4 linked regions of the Homo sapiens genome follow. The protein of the gene in region 3 interacts with the protein of the main gene of each other region in a biochemical or structural test. Each region holds a gene or a part of one and is shown on either strand. Other genes may lie near its edges.

What was found. Proteins that work in one complex are often made in the same cells at the same time.
Region 1: the proteins of FRMPD4 (region 3) and DGKK interact in a test that uses a peptide from one of them, tested with the Homo sapiens proteins (one large-scale study listed by IntAct).
Region 2: the proteins of FRMPD4 (region 3) and NRXN3 interact in a test that uses a peptide from one of them, tested with the Homo sapiens proteins (one large-scale study listed by IntAct).
Region 4: the proteins of FRMPD4 (region 3) and KCNJ12 interact in a test that uses a peptide from one of them, tested with the Homo sapiens proteins (one large-scale study listed by IntAct).

The regions. Positions count from the first base shown.
Region 1 is NC_000023.11:50,386,381-50,391,465, forward strand, and holds part of DGKK (diacylglycerol kinase kappa), read right to left. Parts: coding exon 5,057-5,085; intron 4,030-5,056; coding exon 3,948-4,029; intron 2,239-3,947; coding exon 2,147-2,238; intron 1,274-2,146; coding exon 1,174-1,273; intron 207-1,173; coding exon 1-206. UniProt on the Homo sapiens protein: Diacylglycerol kinase that converts diacylglycerol/DAG into phosphatidic acid/phosphatidate/PA and regulates the respective levels of these two bioactive lipids.
Region 2 is NC_000014.9:78,708,233-78,713,317, forward strand, and holds part of NRXN3 (neurexin 3), read left to right. Parts: intron 1-549; exon of another isoform or gene 550-984; coding exon 985-1,423; exon of another isoform or gene 1,424-1,728; intron 1,729-5,085. UniProt on the Homo sapiens protein: Neuronal cell surface protein that may be involved in cell recognition and cell adhesion. May mediate intracellular signaling. Functions as part of a trans-synaptic complex by binding to cerebellins and postsynaptic GRID1.
Region 3 is NC_000023.11:12,700,966-12,706,050, reverse strand, and holds part of FRMPD4 (FERM and PDZ domain-containing protein 4), read right to left. Parts: intron 4,178-5,085; coding exon 4,041-4,177; intron 1,693-4,040; coding exon 1,566-1,692; intron 1-1,565. UniProt on the Homo sapiens protein: Positive regulator of dendritic spine morphogenesis and density. Required for the maintenance of excitatory synaptic transmission. Binds phosphatidylinositol 4,5-bisphosphate.
Region 4 is NC_000017.11:21,374,275-21,380,101, reverse strand, and holds the start of KCNJ12 (ATP-sensitive inward rectifier potassium channel 12), read right to left. Parts: upstream 3,746-5,827; 5' UTR 3,189-3,745; intron 3,183-3,188; exon of another isoform or gene 2,776-3,182; intron 1-2,775. UniProt on the Homo sapiens protein: Inward rectifying potassium channel that probably participates in controlling the resting membrane potential in electrically excitable cells. Probably participates in establishing action potential waveform and excitability of neuronal and muscle tissues.

The DNA of each region.
Region 1 (5,085 bases), about 38 Mb from region 3:
AGTTTCAAGGATTTCTGGAGACTCTGGGCCTTTGTAGCCAGCTCCAACTTGCACTTGGCTATGTGGTCTATTTGAGGAATGAAGGGCTTCCTATCTGCCTTGCTGCTGTCTGCATATTCTGTAGCACTTTTTTCAGCAGAAGTAGCTGCTGCCTCCTCAGCCAGGACATCGATCAGGACACTGAGCCTATCATACATTAAGTCACTCTATATAGAAAGGAAGGAGACAGGGCATTGTTATGAGGGACCCATGCTTGAGAGGACAGAATGAGGAGTGGTGGTGATATGGGGAAGGGTAGGGAGGGGTAAGAGTTGTCCATAAATGCTGAGCATAGAAAACCACATGTGAGAAGATGAAGTACTTAGCAAAAGAAGTAGGTGGGAAGATGTGATGAGATAACCAAAGGGTGTTAGGAGATCAAACACATATCATTTGTTTCTGAGTGGCCCCATGCATCAGTGTATATAGCTGAGTCTTTCTTGTGTCAAACGGGCCTATAAAACAATGTATAACATGCAAACTTGAGGAAAGACAAATATTTCTGGATTTTCATGGGCACGCTCCTCTGGATATGAACGTGTCCCTGCTTGGGTGCTTGGTGTGTGTCTTTGTATGTGTACAGGCTTGGGGACCTACATCTGCTGCATGATTTAAGGCCTTGATTCTTAGCTCCATCACTTAATAGTTTGCGATCTGAGGCAAGTTTCTTAACCGCTTTGTGCCTCCATATTCTAGGGTAGTTGTGAGGAATAAATACATTAATACATTAAAAACAGAACAGTCCTTGACACAGAGTAAGTGCTATATAAATGTTGGCTATTGTTGTTAGAGAGGTAAATGTGAATGTATTTGTAGTGTGTATTCGTATGTACATACTTGTAAGCATGTTCTGGTGTACAACCATGCACATACCTGCTTGATGTACACTTGTGTCTAGTTGTGGGCAGATGCTTGGCATGTACATGGTATGTGTGTATGCATGCAGAGCGCCATCCTTCATTTAGCAAAAGATGGAAGTTCAATGAGGTTAGACCTTCCTCATCAGGGAGGCTTAACAGCTGCCCCTCCTTTCCTTTCTTTTACCATTCCCAGTGAGAGGCATGTTTGCTTTTTATTAAAAAGGGCCCCTGGCTGCTCCACAAAGAGTATAAGACAAAAGGAATGGGAACTTACTTTCAAAATCACAGACACTATTGCAGTGTTGTTCTGTTTTATCTGACCCCAGGCCTTTACAATATCAACCACAAAATCTTCCACAGCTGAACACAAGAATCTGGAAAGATAAAATAGATGGCACAATGTTACATGAACCATGAGGCCCAGAGCCCTTCTCTCTTATGTCATCAGTCCCCATCCTCCTCCTCTCTCTCTTTCCTGATCTGTCCTCTTTCTCTCACCCTCTGCTCCCAGCCTTTTTCTCTCTGCTTTTTTTTTCCTGTGCATATGGTGAAATATGTTCCATCCCCACTTTAGTTCAGTGTCACACCACTTCCCAAGTCAAGAACCTAATAGAGCTTGACCAGCATTTCTTAGTACTAATTCTGAATTTCCAGAAAAGAGAATTCACTTGGTCCAACTTGGGTCAGGTTTTCACCTAGGTTCAATCAGCTATGTTTCAAGGGCCCAGCTAATTTAGTACAAACAATTATATTGGGAGGACTCTCCCTGTGGGAAGTTTTTCTCAAAGGAGAGTGTAGTCGACTGGGCAGGAGCCCCCTAAGAAGTCCCAGAAGAAACAAATGACCCACATATTTAGAAGGGGGAATGTGTTCCTCAGGTTATGAGAAAGCAGCTATAGGCAGATATTGCAGAGACCTTTCTTAATGTCAAAGACGGAAAGCAAGGTGTCTATACTATAGGGAGCTATGCTATGCTCCTAAATGGTCTATAATGTTGTGTTTCCCTACTATAATTCTCTTCCCAAATCTCTGGCTTGCAATTTTGACTTTTTGGAGCAGCAGACGACTTCACCTCAATGTCATCTTTCTTTCCTAAACTTTCCATTCAGGGGGTTTGAGTTGGGAGAAATCTGATTTGGGAACATAAACATGTATTTTCCTTGGCCTCAACACCCTCAGCTATCAAAATGAGCCCCATGTCTGACCTGGGAACAGCCCCAAAGGATGAGAGCCAAAGGAAGACTGACCTGGTTGCGATGATCATCTCTGTGGGGTACTTGGCCTTCAGGATTTTGTTCAACTCGGTGGCTGCAGATTCTAAGTGTTGGATGGCAGCAGCCTAGGGGCAAAAGGAGTTCTTAGCCCTGGAATCTTAGTACAATAACACAGTGTGCTGCCCATCCTCATCCCCTGCAGCCTCATTGTTTCTTACTGACTCTACCCGCAACTCAACTGCCTCTCTGGAAATGATAATGATCAAAGAATTCTTGTTGAAGGTCAACAGAGATGATCTTAGATCTATGCGTATTCTAAAAATTTAGATGTATTTCATTTTCTCTTAATAATCAAAACCTCATATGAAGGAGGTACTATTTCTTTCATGTTTCAAATGAACAAACAATCTCATATTACATAGCTAGTAAGGAATAAAGCTGGATTCGAATCTACATCTTTCCAATTCCAGAATGTAACTTCTTTAATAATATTACTACCAATAATAACAGCACCCACTTATATAGTACTGACTATGTGCCAGGCTCTGTTCTAAGCTACATGTATATTTTTTCATATAATCCTCATAACAACCCTATGAGATAAAGACTGTTATTATCTCCATTTCACAGAAGAGAAAGCTGAGCCCAGAGAAGGGAAAGATGATAAATTGTAGAGCCAGGATTCAATTCCAGGTAGTCTGGCTCTTGAGTCTGTGCTCTTAATTACAACTTCTACTCCTTCCTCTCTATCACCCTTGACATTCAAACATCTACCAAGACTTGATAATTCTATTTTTTGAGTATGTCTCAAATGTATCCACTGCTACTCATCCCTGCTACCACTTCACCAGTCCAAATCACCATCACCTCTTGCCTAGACAATTACAACATCTCCTAGCTTTTCTCTTTGCCTCTAGTCTTTTATTCCTTCAATTGTTTCTCCACATACCATGGCACTCCTCTACTTAAACCCCTTCTCTTAGATAGCAGACTGGATAGATGACTGGATATGTGATAAAGCACGCATAGGAAAATGTTAGTAGTAGAGCTACCATTTTAACTTTCATCAATGTAGAAATTTTCATAATAAGATAAGAAAAAAATCTTCTGTAATTCTTATTGCTCTTAGGATGAAATCCAAACTTCCTACTGTGGTTTATCAGGCCCTTTCTGGCCTGGCCCCTGATTACTTCTCTAGCCTCATCTTTAGTCACTCTCCCTGAATGCCCCCTTCCTGGCCCCTACGCCTCAGCCATTATGAATGTACTTCAGTTTCGTGAATATTCCATGCTCTCCCTTGCCTTTGGAACAATACACGCTGTTCCATCTGTGTGGAACAGCCCTCCCCTTTCTTATTCTCCTGGTTAATTCCCTCTGGATCTCAAGTATCTTGTGAAATGGCACTCCTTCTGAGCGGCTTTCCCTGATTTCCCCAGACTGAGATAGATCTTCCTGCTATGTGTTCCCAACCCCCTCTACTTCCTTATATACTAACACTCATACTACTTGATTAAAACAATTTATTTTTCCATCTATTCAAGTAGACTATGTCATTCTTCTTTACCCAGTAGCATATAAGAACATCTCCTAGAATAATATCTCACATAAAGTAGTTACTCCATAAATATTTTGAATGAATAAGTAAATGAGTGAATGAATTATATCCCCAGTGCTTAACATAGTTCTTGGTAAATAGCTGCTGACTGACATGTCACCAACTCTCAATGATCTCATCCTCATCCATGCACAATGCAAAAGCTTCTCTCTGGGTTTTGCCAATTATTTCACTGAGTAATAAAGATATTGGTCTGAATTACAGCTGAACAGTAGTTACCTCAAATCGTGGTACATCCATTTCAACCTGTCCTTTTAGCAGCGGGGTTTGTCTGGGAGTCTCACGAATCATCACACTCCATCTGAAATGAATTTCAAAGACGGATATTTAAGGGTCTGTTTCATGACTGGTAAAAATTAGTGCTTCAAAGGTGAAGACAGAAGTAAAAATGTTTATGTGGTGGGGGGAGGTGGGTTGTAGGGGGTGTCCAAGCAATCTCTGGTCACCTGATCTCAAGGTGACCATAAGAGGGACCTCTGTCTCATGACTTCTGTAGGCCAGTGTGATGGAAGGAATTGCCTTCCCTTTACAGGGTTCTCAGAGAGCAGTGCTTCTTAACCAGAGGTAACCATCAAGATCATCTGAGGTGCTTTTGTACAATACACATTCCAGGGCCCTGCCAAGACCTACTGAATCTTTGTGGTGGGGTTCAGGTTGATGTTTTTAAAAAGCTCCCCAGGAGATCCTTATGGGCAGCAATAAATCAAATGCTCCTATATACACCAGCATAGAAAGTCTTTTTTTCCTCAGGAGATAGGATGGTAGTACTTGCTCTTCTCTAGAGCAGTGACAATGTAAGCAAGTTATTTCTAAACTCTCCCTCCATCCCTTTTTTAGTTTCTTTGAAAATCTGATGAAATTATAGACTTTTCCCCAAGAGAGAATATGCTTAAACAGATCATTGGCTCTGCAATTTGAAGAGGGTTCACTGAACCCTTGAACGTTATCCATGGGGCCCCTGCTCTAGAATCGTCTAGTTTTTTTGGTGTTTTTGTTGTTGTTGTTTTTGTTTTGTTTTGGTTTTTTTGAGACAGGGTCTCATTCTGTTGCCCAGACTGGAATGCATTGGCATGATCATGGCCCACTGCAGCCTTAACTTCCCAGTAGGATCCTTTAGTTTTGAAGAGGGGCTTCAATGTTTGAAGGATACATGGTAGACCCTGGCTTCCCAAGAGACAAGCCCCACCCAACCCACAAATGGCTCTGCACTGAAGCCAGAAAGGAAATGAGGCTCTATCAATCAGAGAGGTTAAAGTATTCCTGATTGAGATGATGTGAGTGATGTGGGACAGGAAGAGGCACAAGGGCCTGGTCTTTCAGCCACTTACCTGTCTAGGATCCTCACACTAGCCTGCTC
Region 2 (5,085 bases), on a different chromosome or scaffold from region 3:
CAGAAGTGTACACTAACCTTGGGTAGGGCATGGAGGCAGAAAGCTCTGCTGGACCCCCTTGCAAGGTGAATTAGTATCTGGTTCAGTATTCTTTGTAAAATCAGACTCTCAACTAAATCAATGTCCTTGACTGACTGGCTGAAATAGGGCTTCAGGGTGTCTCATTCTACCACTGTACAGAGGGCACATGCAATGTGCAAAAAATAAAAACAAAAACAGACCTCTGTCCCCACCAGCTTTTAACACTTACTCTTTTCTTTCAAGTAATATATCCACATGGTTGAAAAAAAGTCTAACACTGTAAGAGGGCACAGTGAAAAGTAAGTCACCCTCCCACTCCAGAATATTAATCCCGCAAATATACTCCCCAATGACAATTTTATAGTTCCAAAGAGACTTTATGCTTACTGGAGCATATATACATATAATGCCCCCACGCCCCCACACTTTTACACAATGATAACATAATGCACCCTCTATCCTGTTCCTTGACAATTTCACTTAACAATGTGACCTGGAGAGCTTCCACATCAAAACCAAAAGCAATACCTTGTTTGCAAGGCCTGCCTAATATTCCATTATAACGCTGTGCCATCTGCTATTGATGGTCATTTAGGTTGTTTCTGGTATTTTACTAAGGGTGCTTCAGTAAATCACTTTGTATGAAGTATGTGAATCCATGCAACTCGATCTCTCTTGATTTTTATTTGCAAGCTTATGTTGTATAACTTTCTGACAACACAAGAAATTGGCCAGGAGACAAAAGAAATTCTGTAGAAATATAGAGGCTTTTTTGGAGCTTGTGTGCACATCAGATGTTTCTTCAGATACCTTTTTGGTTCCTGTGTCTCATTGTTTCTCATGTTGTTTTGGGCTATGTCCTGAAGCCTCTTTTTGGGTCATTTTTCCAGGTGCCCAGTGAGTGATGGATGGATACTGTTTGCAAGATTGATTCACATGGCACTTTTGTTTGGCTTTTGACAGGTTGTTTATAAGAATAATGACATCCGTCTGGAGCTGTCTCGCCTGGCCCGGATTGCGGACACCAAGATGAAAATCTATGGCGAAGTTGTGTTTAAGTGTGAGAATGTGGCCACACTGGACCCCATCAACTTTGAGACCCCAGAGGCTTACATCAGCTTGCCCAAGTGGAACACTAAACGTATGGGCTCCATCTCCTTTGACTTCCGCACCACAGAGCCCAATGGCCTGATCCTCTTCACTCATGGAAAGCCCCAAGAGAGGAAGGATGCTCGGAGCCAGAAGAATACAAAAGTAGACTTCTTTGCCGTGGAACTCCTCGATGGCAACCTGTACTTGCTGCTTGACATGGGCTCTGGCACCATCAAAGTGAAAGCCACTCAGAAGAAAGCCAATGATGGGGAATGGTACCATGTGGACATTCAGCGAGATGGCAGATCAGGTAGGAAGAGGCAGGATGTGTGACTGAGACTAGACGAAAGCTGTAGCTTCTCAGTTTGTTTTTTGGCTTTATGTTTCTTAATTTTCACCCTTGCATGCTTGTTGATTCTTTTGCTACTCTCTTTAATGGCTGTTGTAAAATTATGTTTCTGAAAAGATACCTGTCTCATAGATGGCTCACATTCTCCGCTTATCTCTCTTGTCACTCACTGCGCAATTGTCTCAGTGATAGCTCTACGATCCTGGAGCTAAGGATGGTTTTACAAGTAGCATTTCCACTGCTACCAGAGCAACTCTCATGTCACTGGTGTGATCCGCCCCCATTGCCCCATTCTTTGCTTCTCTTTTTCCTCATCACCATGGAAACCGATTGTGACATCACAGATGCTGCATTATGTGATTATTTTGTAGGATAAACTTCACTGTGCAAGAATTTATGCAACAATACACCCTTCAGTAATTGGCAAGAGTCATGTTGCATGGAGAAATTATGACAAGAAAGGAAAAGGCAAATTGATTTTTCCTGAAGATACATTCAATTTAAAGCCTTCCTTTGGTGTAAAAGCCTATATTTCACTCTTTGTTCAGACCTCACTAACTCTCTCTTCCTCTTCATAACCTTTTACATTTTGTTTAAATGGCTTTGTTTCTGCAGCTGCAGATCAAACAAGCTAGCCCCAGGCAGTACATAGCTACTATGGAATAGTAACAAAGTGGGGGTGGGGGTGGGGCAAAATAGTCAGGGGTTTTTGAATGCCTGGACAGTCTGCCTAGCTTTCTATGGACCATGTGGCAATGAAGGTCACATTCTGTGCTATCAGAAAGGGCATTTTCCCAAGAGCAGTAATTAGAGCATTTGCCATTTCAGACTCATTTCCTGATTCTCCATTTAGGTAGGATGTACTCAAGAAGGGTCTTGGCTTCATGTGCCATATTTATAGAGATTCACTTTCCTGATGAACATTAAAAAGTCTCTATTTGGATATTTTCTTTCTAGGTACATTTGGCCAGTAAGAGAGAGCAATAAGTTCCCCAAAAGGCTGAAACTGGGAGTGACTGAGCTTTGGTGGGTTGGCTTTTCTGCATAATTCCAAAGCTAGGCTGACGGCAGAGATAGCAATATTGCCCTTAGGAAGAGCTGGATGGGTTCTTTGCAGAGGGCAGATGGGTGGCAGATTGCAGCCCTGGCTATTTTATTGCCCAGTAGGAATCTTTACTGGTTGTCTGAAATCTGATCAGAACCAAGAGCCTTCAAATTAAATGTGCTCGTTAAGCAAGAATGAATAGTGTCTACCCTTTTACACAGAAAAACACCCAAAAAATTAATTTCTTTGGAGGCTAAATCCCGCCACACCCCCCATACTTCTTCTTCTTCTTTTCTTTCTCCTTCTCTGCTTTTCAGTAAAATGACAGCAAGAGCAGAGTCAGAAAGCTGTTCCAGAATTATAAAGAAAACACTGCTGTTGGTTTTTAAGAGCATGTGTTTGGGATCTCTGAGGTTAGGTCACGGTGGACGGGTTTTGTGTCTGACTAACCTAGACCTTGGCACAGCATAAAAGTTACCTTACCCGTGTCTCAGGCAGGCTAAAACACACAAAATTGCCATTTGTTCATTTCTGTCTGTTCCTAATACAAATTTTTCTTTCAAACAATTTTGAACAAAGGGGAACAGTTTTTGTTGTTTAAACCACCAGTGGACCCAACTTCAACAAATATGTTTGAATTTCAGAAGTCTTAAATTTCATACCTGGGAGCTAAAGCACTGGCTAATTCTTTTCTCTTTTTTTTTTTTTTTTTTTTTTTTGAGACAGAGTTTCTCTCTTGCTGCCCAGGCTGGAGTGCAATGGCGCAGTCTCGGCTCACTGCAAACTCTACCTTCCAGGTTCAAGTGATTCTCCTGCCTTACCTCCCAAGTAGCTGGGATTACAGGCACCCTCCACCAAGCCCAGCTAATTTTTGTCTATTTAGTAGAGACAGGGTTTCACCATGTTGGCCAGGCCAATCTCGAACTCCTGACCTCAGATGATCAACCCATCTCGGCCTCCCAAAGTGCTGGGATTACAGGAGTAAGCCACTGTGCCAGGCCTGGCCAGTTTTTTGAACTACTGATGAATTTGATCAAAGCCTATTAAAAACTTACTGAGTAAACAAACAATTGTCCCATGAAAGCAGTATAATCTAAAATTTTAATACAGTCTGTTAAACTTTCATTTTTTCATGAGAATGTTTTCTGGTAACTTGTTTTAGATTATAAATCTATACTAAAGGATAGTTATAAAAACAAGTGTATCTAAATGTGGTGCCTCCTTCCCTGATAATCTTGAAGAATAATATAACAAACAGTGATCTAGAAAAACTTTTATGATCACTCCTCACTTGGGCAAGTCAGTCTTAGAACTTGTTAAGTGCATTCAAAACTGTTATGGTCACACATTCAGAGAACAGATTTTCCTCAGGTTGTATTTAAGGCTCTAAAATTTAAATTGATTCTAGTATTGTCTTTACTTGGCAATAGATGTCTCCCCATTTTAGTTGGTGATCAGATTAGCCCTGTGGACCTGTGAGGGGTAAAGAAAGAAAACTATGCAACAGAGAAAATAGTAAGAGATAGAGACCTCAACTTCCTCCTTTGTAAGATAGAGAAAATAATAACTCCTACCTCCCAATATTGTTTTGAGGATCAAGTCCAAAAATGCACATAAAATAGTTAAAATGGTAGCCAGGACATTATTGTTGTTATATAAGTGTTTGAAAGATTGAAAAACAAAAGGCAAAGCATATTTCTCTAGGAGTAAACTTCTAGGAGGGAGTAGTGAAGCAGATTGTTAAATTCCCCTTAATATCCTTTCTATGCTTCTACTCTTGTGTTGACTTTGCACTTTATTTATTGTTTTTAACTTTAGTTAATTAATTAATTAAATTTCTTGAGAGCTAGTCTCACTCTGCCACCCAGCTTGGAGTGCAGTGGCACGATCTCAGCTCTCTGCAATCCCCACCTCCCGGGTCCAAGGAATTCTCCTGCCTCAACCTCTCGAGTAGCTGGGATTACAGGTGCCTGCCACCACACCTGGCTAATTTTTGTATTTTTAGTAAAGATGGGGTTTCACCATGTTGGCCAGGTTGGTCTTGAACTCCTGACCTCAAGTGATCTGCCCGCCTCAGCCTCCCAAAGTGCTGGGATTACAGGCGTGAGCCACCACACCCAGCCGACTTTGTACTTTAAAGTGTATGTTTCATTCTTGATCACGTCTGATCTTCGCAGCCCTTCAGGTTATATACCCTTCATAACTGAAGAAACTGAGAATCAGACAGAGGTGAAGGCTGACTGATGGATGGCATGACCCATTTATCTTGATACCAATAAAGCACATCAAGAATAATAAATACCTATTTTAAAATTTCTGACAGGAAGTTTAGATATCACCTAGTCCATTTCCTTAATTTTCCAGTTCGGGAAATTGAGCCATAAAGTGGTTCAGGGATTGGCCTAGGGTCATAAAGACATTTAGGACTAGAATCCCTGCTCTCAAGGTCCCAGGTTAGCTTGTGGGGTTTCATCTTCTACAATCTCATTTGATGCTGTCCAAACTCCAACCCCTTCCTGGGTCTGCTTAGCTCTCTGACTTGATCTCCTGCTCACCCCCTCTTGCCTTCTCTATTCTA
Region 3 (5,085 bases):
ATTAAGGTTGAAATTTTCCAACAAGGTGTAGACCACCATTAAGTGGCAATGACCATAAAATTCTATTTTCACTTGCAGATGGCTTGCCAACTTATTTGTTAACTATACATAAAGGCACTGCTCTTTATGTAATTGTTACTTAGCACCATTCATCCATCCTACTTCTTTCAAAAATGCAAAGCATTTGCAAATTGTTTTGAAAGCAAACTATTCACTCTTGGCTAGAAAAACAACCTTTAAAGGACAGTGATGGATAAATGGATAGGTTGATTGATCTTATAGCAGTTATCCAAATTATTACGAGTGGGCCAGGCTTGAAAAAAAAATCACAAGTCAATTATAGAAATTAGCTTCCAGCAAATCAGAACTGAAGTTAAAAAGAACTTGACCCACATCATCTTGCTACATCTCTGTAAGCTGAATGCTCACTGTGATCAAAGACATCCTTCCCATGAAATTGGGAAGTGAGTTAAAGGTGGCTGATAGTGTGTTGAAACTGATTATACTTAAAAAAAAAAATTGTCGTGGGGTGAGGAGGGGATAGAAATAAATGTACCTTACCCAGTAAAAATGACTTAAAAAAATCAGATACTAAGACAAAATGGTTCTCCACGTAAACAGTGATTTGTATTAGAGTCACACAAATTTCTCCAGCTAATATCAATTGGAAAGTGTTCTTCAGTTATAAGACTGCTTCCAATTTTATAGATCCAGTATTTTAAGGCTCCTTCTCTTTCTGGTTCCTGGAATCCTTTGCTTTTTATTACCTATAAACTATACCTCTCTTTTCTGACCAACAGTATATTTTAAAATTTCCTTTGTGTTTCTCTTACTTAATGAAAACAAAAACAAAAGCATAAAAAGATTTTAACACTAATGATGGTGAATGACAGCAATAATTTTATCTTCCCTCCAAAGGTAGGATTGAATCCATTGTTTGTCAATAGGGGTGATTTTGTTCCCGGGAGCACATTTGGCAATGTCTGGAGACATTTTTGTTTGTCACGATCACGGGAGGGTGCTACTGGCATCTTGTGGGTAGAGACCAGGGGTGCCGCTAAACATCCCAGAATACACAGGATGTTCCCCGTAACTCCCTAACAAAGAATGATCTGTTCCCAAATGTCAATTACGCCACAGTTGAGGATCCCTGGTTTAATTAATGTGGCCTCTGGCCTGCAGGGCCTCTTGCTGGCTGTTGTGCATTGAAGCTGGTCTGAGCAGTAAGCAATTGCATGATTGAAACATAGAATGATTTCACAATTCTATCTTCTATCCACAAGGTCTCAGAGGCTACGCAAACTTTTCCTGGATGGGCACATGAACACATACCTCCCTGCTACAGTACGGAGTCCATAACTTGTGAGAAAGAAATAGGTTTCTATATGAATACTTATTTTTCATTAGTGTTAGAAACATGTTAATAGTTAGAAAAAAGTTACACAGTGTTACTGCTTCTGAAAATATGGTACTAAGTATTTTATTCATGAGCTAATTTTAAACATTTAAAAAATGCATTCAAGCCTCTCTCTTTATAATTTTCTTTTAAGATGGAAATGTGATACCTTTTTACCCGGTGGTACCAAGTTTTGATTTGCTTTGACAAGGTGTGAAAGTGCTTTCTTTATGTTCTTCTCTTTCATGCTTTGCAGCACAGCAGAGGGAAGAAAAGTCTCTAATCCCCATTCTTTTCTGCAATAAAGAGCATATCTTTAATTTCACATTTCTGTGATGATGAGTTATCTAAGACAAAATGGTGCTCTGATGTTTGTTGGAACAAATGAACCCTTGGTGAGGCAGAGAATGGAGACAAGTCCCCAAAGGAAGTAACTTTTAATTTACACTCAGGACACACACTACTTGATCATTAATACACATGTTTGCATTTAAAAAGAAATCTGTTCCTCATTCTCTAGAGACAATGCTAAGGAGGCATTTGGAGCCAATGTAAAGTGAAGAGACATTTTGTCCAACCAACTTCTGAATCTCTTCAAAGTCACTCACGTATCCGAGTTTGTATTTCCAACACCAATTTCTCTCCATCCCTTTGTTGATTTCTATTCTCCAATCTCCCTGTCTGCTCATATTCTTCCTCTCTTAGAAGAATGGATGCAAGTCCTTCATGTCCCCAAACCATTCTTCCCTGTCCCTCCCCTCCTCCATGGCTATTTCTCTAGGCACACACAGTTCTTTTGTCCCAGCCAGTTCCTGTCTAACTCCCTCCATCAACATTTCTTGCTGGTGGTGTGGAATTGGGTGTGATTCATGACTCTTAAGTGTGCCCAGTATTGATGTGGAGATGCTGTTCTCATTCATGGACGTGGATGTACAACAAAACAACAACAAATGGGACTGAGTTAATACATTTTTACAAAGAGCCAATTTCACCAGAAACGACTACCACCCCCTTCTAAGAAGGTCCCATATTTTGAATTCTAGGAAATCTATCCTGGAGTAGAAATCCTACCCTAGGTTATGTGTCTAACCAGTGTCTTCTAAATTATGTGAAGACCTTCAAGAGGATTCCAGTTATTTCTCCTGTTCTAGGTCCTCTCCAAAGAAGGGTAGGAAGACAACCTACCCCCACCACTTGACCATTCATATTCTTCACTAGTTAAGATGGTATATTTCATGATCATTATGTTTTCTTCCTTCTCAACTTGTACTTATTGTCTTATCCATCATTTGGCACTACTTATGGGCTTTCTTGTAATCCTACTTGTATCATTATTTTAAATAATTACTTTTCCTATCTTTATATCTTGTTTTTACAATCAGACCACAAGTTCCTCAATGGCCAGGAATATAATTCATACATATTAGTATTTTCTACTATCCTAATGTGAGTGCTATATAAAATGCTCAATGAATATTTGTTGGTCAAAGGAATTTATGAATGAGAACATTATTACAGACTTTTCAGGATTCTTACTCAAGCCAGATATCTCTGAGACGTTTTTGACCATACAATGTTCAACCTGGTAAAATGTGGGTACACAAAGTAGGAAAAGAAATGCATTTTAATTGTCTGAAAATCAACTCCGGTTGTGCAGGCCACCTTTTCAAATGGCAGCCAGTTTCACCTGTCCCCAAGAACTTTAAAAAGGAGAGTGGAAGAGTGTGTGAATGTGTCCAGCTGAGCACGAGATCTCTTTGTGAGCCAAGTCTTTCTCAGGCTACAGTCACGCTTATGTGTGGGGAGAGAGAGAAAGCATCTGGAAGGAGTGAACTGAAGGCCTGAGGTTCTCAAATTGCATATGAGGATTTGTCCCTACATGTCAACAGGTGACTGAGAGTTGTCAGAACAGTGGTGTTGAAGTCAGCAAGTTGGAGATTTAATCCTTCCCAACACAGGCTCATGAATTTATTGAGAAAAGCCATTTTGCCCCCTGGTGGGTGAACCTGGCATTGTGGAATTTAGAAAGGCTTTCTAGGCAGCCCATGAGAAGTTTCTTTGGAAAGTGGGATTTTAATTAGTTTATACATCTTTTGGAGGTGAGATTGTAAGCAGGGTGTGGGGGGAGGTCCAAGGCTTTAGCATTACATGTGTTTCCAAACACAGGTGCCTCAACCCATCACACAATCTATAGCACAACGGGGAGTCCCACTGCCTGGGTTTGAATCCTATATCCCCGCGTTAATAGCCATTTGACTTGGGCAAGTTATTCTATGACTCGGTTTGCTCGTCTGTAAAATGAAGCTAAAATCCTACTAATCTCATAGGGGTGTTGTGAGAATTAAACAAATTAATGTGTGAAAAGTGCTAAGACCAAAGCTTGGCTTGGAATCAAGCCCCTTTAGGAATTCAAAAATTTATGCTTCGTTTTAAATATGTCCCTCATCTTAACTACAATGCTCTAAAGGTGGATTAGAAATGGATCTCTTCTGCCAGAAATGAGCATGATATTCATACATTTTGCCACTGGCGAATGAATGCTTTGACACAAACAAGATCAATTTTGGACAAATAACAAAAATACACCCGGGCTAAGGGAGGCGGCATGTCTGTCTCCGAAATGGCGCTGAGAGTCAACACTTACTCGATGTATTTGAGGGAGATTTTCTGCGTTTGCTTGGTGGTAACGGTTGCAATGTACATTTGTAATGCGGCCAGCCGCAGGGCTATGTCATATTTCAGCTCCGGCCCAAATCGCTCCTGAACCACATCGTTACAACTCTGCGAAGAGACCAGCAGGGGGCACAGCTTGTCAAAGAATAGGCCGCAGCGCGTGGACTTACAGAACAGGTGACATACATTTCCCGAGTGATTCAACCTTCACTTCCCAGGCAAGGAGGCTAAATGTGGAAACATCTCCACCGTGCTGCTTGGAAACGAGTCAGTATTGAATTGCAAGCGCAAACACAGAGACCACACAAAACATTTAGCATTCATCGACGAGCTGCTATTTAAATATTTAGCTTTTTGTAAAAACAATTAGGAATTTAGGTATGAAATTTCCAAACACAGGTGCCGCAGTTGAATGCACACAGCATTGATAGCATAATGTGGCTTCTGGAGTTAGGCTGCCGGAATTGGAATCTTAGGCTTGAAACTTGTTTCTCCACTTCATTAGGGGCACAAACTTGGGCACCTTCTTAATTGTCTGTGCCTCAGTTTTCTCTTCTGTAAATTGGGGATAATACTGCTCCCTCTTCACTGGGTTGTGGTGACCATTAAATGAGTGAACCATGAAAAGTTCTTAGAATCCCAGCACTTTGGGAGGCCAAGGCGGGTGGATTACGTGAGCCCTGGAGTTCAAGACCAGCCTGGGCAACATGGCGAAATCCAGTCTCTACAAAAAACACAAAAATTAGCTGGGCATGGTGGTGTGTGCCTGTAGTCCCAGCTACTAGGGAGGCTGAAGCAGGAGGATCGCTTGAGTCCAAGAGTTTGCGGCTGCAGTGAGCCTTGATCACACCACTGCATTCCAGCCTTGGCAAAAGAGCAAGACCTTGTCAAAAAAAAAAAAAAAAAAAAAAAAAGAAGCCAAAACAAAACCCCAAAAGCTCTTAGAACCGTACTTGGCAGGGTGTAAGCCCTCTTACATGTTTACTACTGTCACTGCTAACATCATTCTCCTCCTC
Region 4 (5,827 bases), on a different chromosome or scaffold from region 3:
GCTAGCCTGGCAGTCAAATGCCCCTGAGGGGTGTGTCTGTGGAATGGGGGAAGGTGCAGTTCTGTCCCTGGGAAAGCACCAGGGCTCTGGGTCTGAGCCCCACAGGCTGGTGCCTCCAGTGCCTCCCTGGGCCTCCAATCCCTGTCTGCACAATAGAGCTAATGCCACCCTCTGCACTGGCAGGCCATTAGGAAATTAAGTCAGCTGACCCAGGGCTGGGTCCTTGGCCAGTGCCCAGCGGGGGCTCTGGTCCTGCCCCGAGCCCAGCACCTCAGAAAACCCACCTGCCTCTGCCAGGCCCCCCCCCACCCCCAACCCCATGGTGCCTCTGAAGCTCTGGCCAACCTGCACACGGCCCAGTTTCAGGCCAGCTCTCTTTCATCTTCAGCCTTTCCCTGCTGCCGTGTCCCCATCACGCTGCCAGTTCCCGGCACAGCCATCCCGTGGGGCTGAGCCCCCACCCACCGCACCTTCCATGTGGCCAGCCAAGCCTCCACCCCTCCTGCTGCCCGCAAGCTGCCCCCTCCCTGACTCTCCTCCACGCTAGCCGGTGGCAGGGCTCCAAGGGCAGGCCCGGGGAGGGGCAGGTGTACCCATGTGTCGCTCACAGTAAAGCCCTGGCCAGGGCCCAGCCACAGGCACCAGCTGCACCTGTTGGAGGAAGGGCCCAGCCCAGAGCTGGGCCTGGGAGCAGGGGGGGTGAGGGTGGCCACTGGGTGGGCACCGTGTGTACCAGTAGCCTTCTGCCTGGGGACCTGGCGAGGGCCACAGAGGTTGATGACAGTAATGATGCACTCACTTCCGCCCCAGCCATATGCCAAGGCCTCCGGGTGCCACGCTTGGTACTGCCAACTGTGGCCCAGGGTACCGGAGGCCTGGCTAGGCAGAGAAAACTGCCCATAGGCAGAACCGGCCCCAGTGCTGCAGAGCTGCAGGTGCTGCTGCTGCTGTTACTCCTGTTATCACTGCTGTCATTATTATTTTGCTGTTGCAGGGCCACTCAGTGTTACTTTGTCCTGCTTCAAGGAGACCCAGGGATGGGGACACCATGGCCCTGGGGCAGGAAGGCTGGTGGGGTAAGCGCCTGGCCTGGAAAGAGCTAGGTGAAGGCATCTGTCCAAACCCAACCCACTGCATGGTTTTAGGCAATACCCCTCCACCACTTCCCAGGCACCTCTTCCTTCCAGCACAGTTGAGGCACATTCCTGGAGGGGTCCCCTCCGGGGCAGCCTGGAAACCTTATGGGGTTTTGACGGGGTAGCTGCAGGGGGAGTGTCCAGAGATGGACTGACAGCTCAGGTCCTGCCCCTCCCAGAGAAGGCTCCACCCCCTTCAGTGCTGGGGATGAGGGGTGTCAGCCATGCCCTCCCCTGGGAGGGGAAAAAGGAGGTGATAGAGGACTTGGAGCCCCTACCTGCCAGCTCTGGGTCAACAGCCAGCATTTACAGACTGCCTACTGTATGCCTACAGCGGCCCTCCAGTGGAGAAGAGGGGTGTCCCTGTGGCCCAGCACACTGGAGCCACCCTCCTCGTCTCCAGGGTGCTCGAGTGAGTGCCCTCCGCCCTCACTCCCTGCTCTCTCTCAGGCGGCTTGGCCCCACCAAATGGCAGGCCCCCAGGGTCCCCCTCCTAGAGCTGCCAACCTCGGGTCCCCTGTCTGGTTGGAGGTGCCACCAGAGAACTGAGGGGCAGACTTCGCTGTGAAGTCTTTTGTTGGGGGGGGCGGTCCCAGCAGACACTGAGGGGCTCTTCTCAGAATACAGAAGGGAGTACCCCTCAAAAAGAGCGAAAGCCTCTGGTGGCGCCCAGGGCTGAGATGGACCTCCCCTCTCTGACCCTCGCCCGCCACAGGGCGGCGGTCCAGGGCGGAGCTGCGCGAGGAGGGGCCGCGGAGGTGCAGCGCAGCGCGAGGGAGGCTGGGGTCCAGCCGCGCGGCCAGGGACCGGCTCTCCTTTGGCATCTCAGAGGGGGCGAAGGCTAGGCCCAAGGCTAACGCCTTCCGGGTTCGCACCTTCCAAAGGCGGCTGCCGATTTCAGTGGCGTGTGGGCGCCTCGGCGCTCTCGGAGACGGAGCCTGTGAACCTGGGTTTGGGGCGCAGATGTGGGAGCCAGGAGGTCCCCAGCGCTTTATTGCAGGGCTCGAACCTGGGTATAGGGGAGCAAAAAAGAAACTAGAAATGGCCACAGGCAGCGCGGTACTCTAAGATGGGAACGCCCCCTGGGAAATGGGGAGGGGGAGGTCCCAGGTGCGGGCGAGTCCAGGCTGTGAGGAGGCAGGAAAACCTCCCAGAACAAGACCGTCCCCAAAGAAACACTTTGACCCCCATTCTGATCACAGGTTTTAAAATATTCACATGACATGGGCACGCTGGATCAAAACCGAGGCACAGACACTCGCTTGGGCCTCAACTCCCATCTGAACCCCCCAAGGAGCGCCCCACCCCAGCTGTCTCTGCCCATGAGCCCCTGATTCCCGCCCCGCTCCCCCAGGGCACCCGGAGAGGCCGTGCGCGCGCAGGGTGGACCCTGGCCCTGAAACCCTGGGAGCTTCTCAGCCAGCGGCCATCCCCTCGGAGATCAAGGCCGACTTCTAAAAGCAAAAGGGAGCCTCTGGACTTGGCTGACTTGCTGGCATGGAATCATTTCCAGAATATTTTTACTCCATTACAGCACGGGAGGTGAGAAAGAGACACGACTCCAAGAACCCGCAGGTCTCTGACGGGAGGCATTCTCGGGGCGGCTCATATAGCCCGGGCGCCCACCTCCGAACCCCACCTCGATCGCGGGGTCTCCGGGAAGGTCACGCGTAGGACCCGTGCCGCGCGCCAGAGTGCTTCCGCACGCTCCCTCCCGAGCCCCCTAGTGCAAACCAGTCAGAGGGGGGCCGAGGGCTCCTCAAAGTTTCCCGGAGCGCCCCCCAGGACGAAGGTTAGCCAGGAGCAAAGTTCCTTGTGGTGGTAGCCGGAGACATGGCAGGAAAAGAAAAGCTCGCAGTCAGCATTTCCTCCGATGTCTCACCAAGGGAGGGAAAAAAATAAAACGAGAGGAAGAAAACACCCTCCCGCTCCACCTTCCCTGTTGCTGCACAACCTCGTGCTAGCTCCGGGCCGGGCTAGTGGCGAGGCGCGGCCTGCGGGGAACTGGGGCCGGGCCCGGGAGGGACCATGCGCCCGCGGCCGCGCACTTACCTCGGTCAGTGGCCCGGGCGCGGCGCGCTCGGCGTCCTCCAAGCTCCGGGCGGCCGTTCCTGGCCCCGGCAGCTGCCGCGCTGGCTGCATCGCCGCCGCTGCCGCCACCGCCTCAGGGCAGCTCCCGGGGGCGCTCCATGCCGAGGGGCGCGTCTTCTCTGCAAAGCGGATCGCCCTGGTCCAGCCACGGGTCGGGGGCGCGCGCCTGGACGGCGCCCCCGGCCGCTGGGCGCTCGCTTGGGCCGGGGCGGCTGGCGTCGGTCCCTCGGTCCGGCTGTGAGCACGGCCGGCCCACCCCCTCCCCCGCCGGCTGTTATCTGATCTCGGGCAGGGCCCGGCGCGCTCCCCTACGCCCCGGCGCCCCGCACCTCCTCGCAGGCTCTGACCGCGCCAGTCCCCCTCCCCCGGCTACTGTTCCCAGGGAGGCGGCAGCAGTGGCGGTGTGGCCGGGAGAAGACGGGGAGCGAGGAATGGAGGGCGAGGAGGCGGCGGGAGGCAGAGGCTCGGCGCGCACCCAGCTCCGCGCCTCGCTCCACCGGAGCTCAGCTCGGCAACTCCTCTAACTCTCCGCGGAGAGCACGCCCGCCCCGCGCCGCGCCGCGCCGCGCAGCCGCTGCACCAGCCTACCACGGCTCCGGCCTGGCCCCGAGCCCCTCCTAGTCCCGGGCCGCCCCCTACACACACACCGCCAGCCACTTGCGCACTGGGACGCGCGCGCGCACACACACATATATATATACACACACACACACACACACACACACACACACACAGGCACGACTTCCCGGGGACATGCGCGCACACACACATACACACACATGCAGGCACGTCCGCCGGGGACACGCGCGCACGCACAGGTGCATGGCGAGCACACACACAGGCATAAACATGCAGGATACATGCCCCCACATGCATGATGTTCGCAGGGGCACATGTGCACACTCGCTCATATGTGCACATGCAGGATGGCATCTGCACGTGTGCATACGCACACACAGGTCTAAGCTTGTGCATTCCCACAGAGCCCTTTTCCCCTGCACACCAGGCACGCACCCTCTACACACACCATCCCACCCTAATAGCATTTTTCTCCTCTCCATCTTGAGCTGCTTGGCTTCTCCCATCTCCTGCCTTCTCTGTGCTCCTCCCTGGACCTCTCTCTGCCGACCGGATCCCCATGTGACCCCCTTCTCTTTCGAGCCCCTGTCTCTGGAGGCTCAGGCTTTCTTCCCAACCTGTCCCCAAATGCCCTGCCCTCCCAGCTTTCTGAGGCCTATTGTCTGGGCCTCATATCTCTGAGCCTCCCGCAGGGGCCAAGTCTTTCATCCTGGCAGACAGACCTGCTCGCCTGGACACTGACCCAGGGGAACTCCATTTTGTCACCAGTCTGACCCCCAGCTCGGCCCTAGGGCCTCAGAATTGGGCCGAGGAGGCCAGTCTGTGCCCAGAGCATGAGCCTCAAAGGGCTCCTTGGCCCCCTTGGCCTCCAGCTTCCCCTTTAATGTGAAATATAATTATGTGTCTGCACAGCAGGGAGACTGGCTGCAGGATTCTAACCGAGGAGGACGGCTCTCTGGCCCGCACCCAGATTGCTGGCGGCTCAGAGCAGAGTGATCTGCAGGCCCCACCAGCCCTAGGATCCTGGCCCCAGGCAGCTGGTGGGTGAAATCCAGCCCAGCACTCACCGACATCAGTCTGCCCTGGGTTTGAATCCCACCTCAACTGACTAGCTGTGGGACAGGTCACTTCACCACTCAGTGCCTCTGTTTCCCTGTTGTCAGTAGAAATCACTACACTCATGGGGCTGTAGCAAGGATTAAATGAGATGAGTCTACCTAAAGTGCTTAGCACTTGACTTGGCTGGTAAAACAGCCAGGCGGAGCACTCAATATGTTCTGAGCTCTGTGCTATGGACCCAGCTAGAATTATTTCATTACCACTGCGGCCATCTGTGGTGGATAAGCTCATTGGCTCCATTTTACAGATGAAGGAACTGAGGCACAGAGGGGTGGTCACTTGCTTAATTACAGAACTACCAGATGGTGGAGCCAGTACGCAGAATCAGGTGTGTCCTCAACTTAGGGCTGCAGTGGAGAAAGAAGGGGCATCGCAGAAGTCTGCAGCCCCCACCCTGCCCTGCCTGGCACACTGTGTCCTGGTTTCCTCCTCCTCCTGGGAGAAACAGCCTCCCAGGGGACCAAAAGCTCTCAGGAAACTTCCTTCTTCTCCCTCCGAGTGACCAAGGAGGGAAATGACTCAGCTCCCCACCTGCCCCTGCTCCATTTCCCAGATGGGGAAGCCCAAGCCAGCTGCGGAAGAAGCCTCAAACCAGCTCCCACCCTCAGAGACCACTCAGCTGTCCCAAGAGGAATGGGGCCTGAGACATCCCTCCCTCGAGGCCTTACTCTGGTGGCCTAGAAAGGGGCAAGGGAATGGACGGGAACACCTCAGGGCTCCTCTGGGTCTAAGATTCTGACAGCTCCTGGGACAAGTGGCTGTGCCCAGGGCATCCTCACGCCTGGAACACCACCCCCCCCTTCCCACACACACACACACAGGGCCCCTGCCCAGGGGCTCGACACCCAAGATGACTACTGTGAGTCAGGCCAGGTCTCCGCCCCTCCCTATCCCCACTCCCA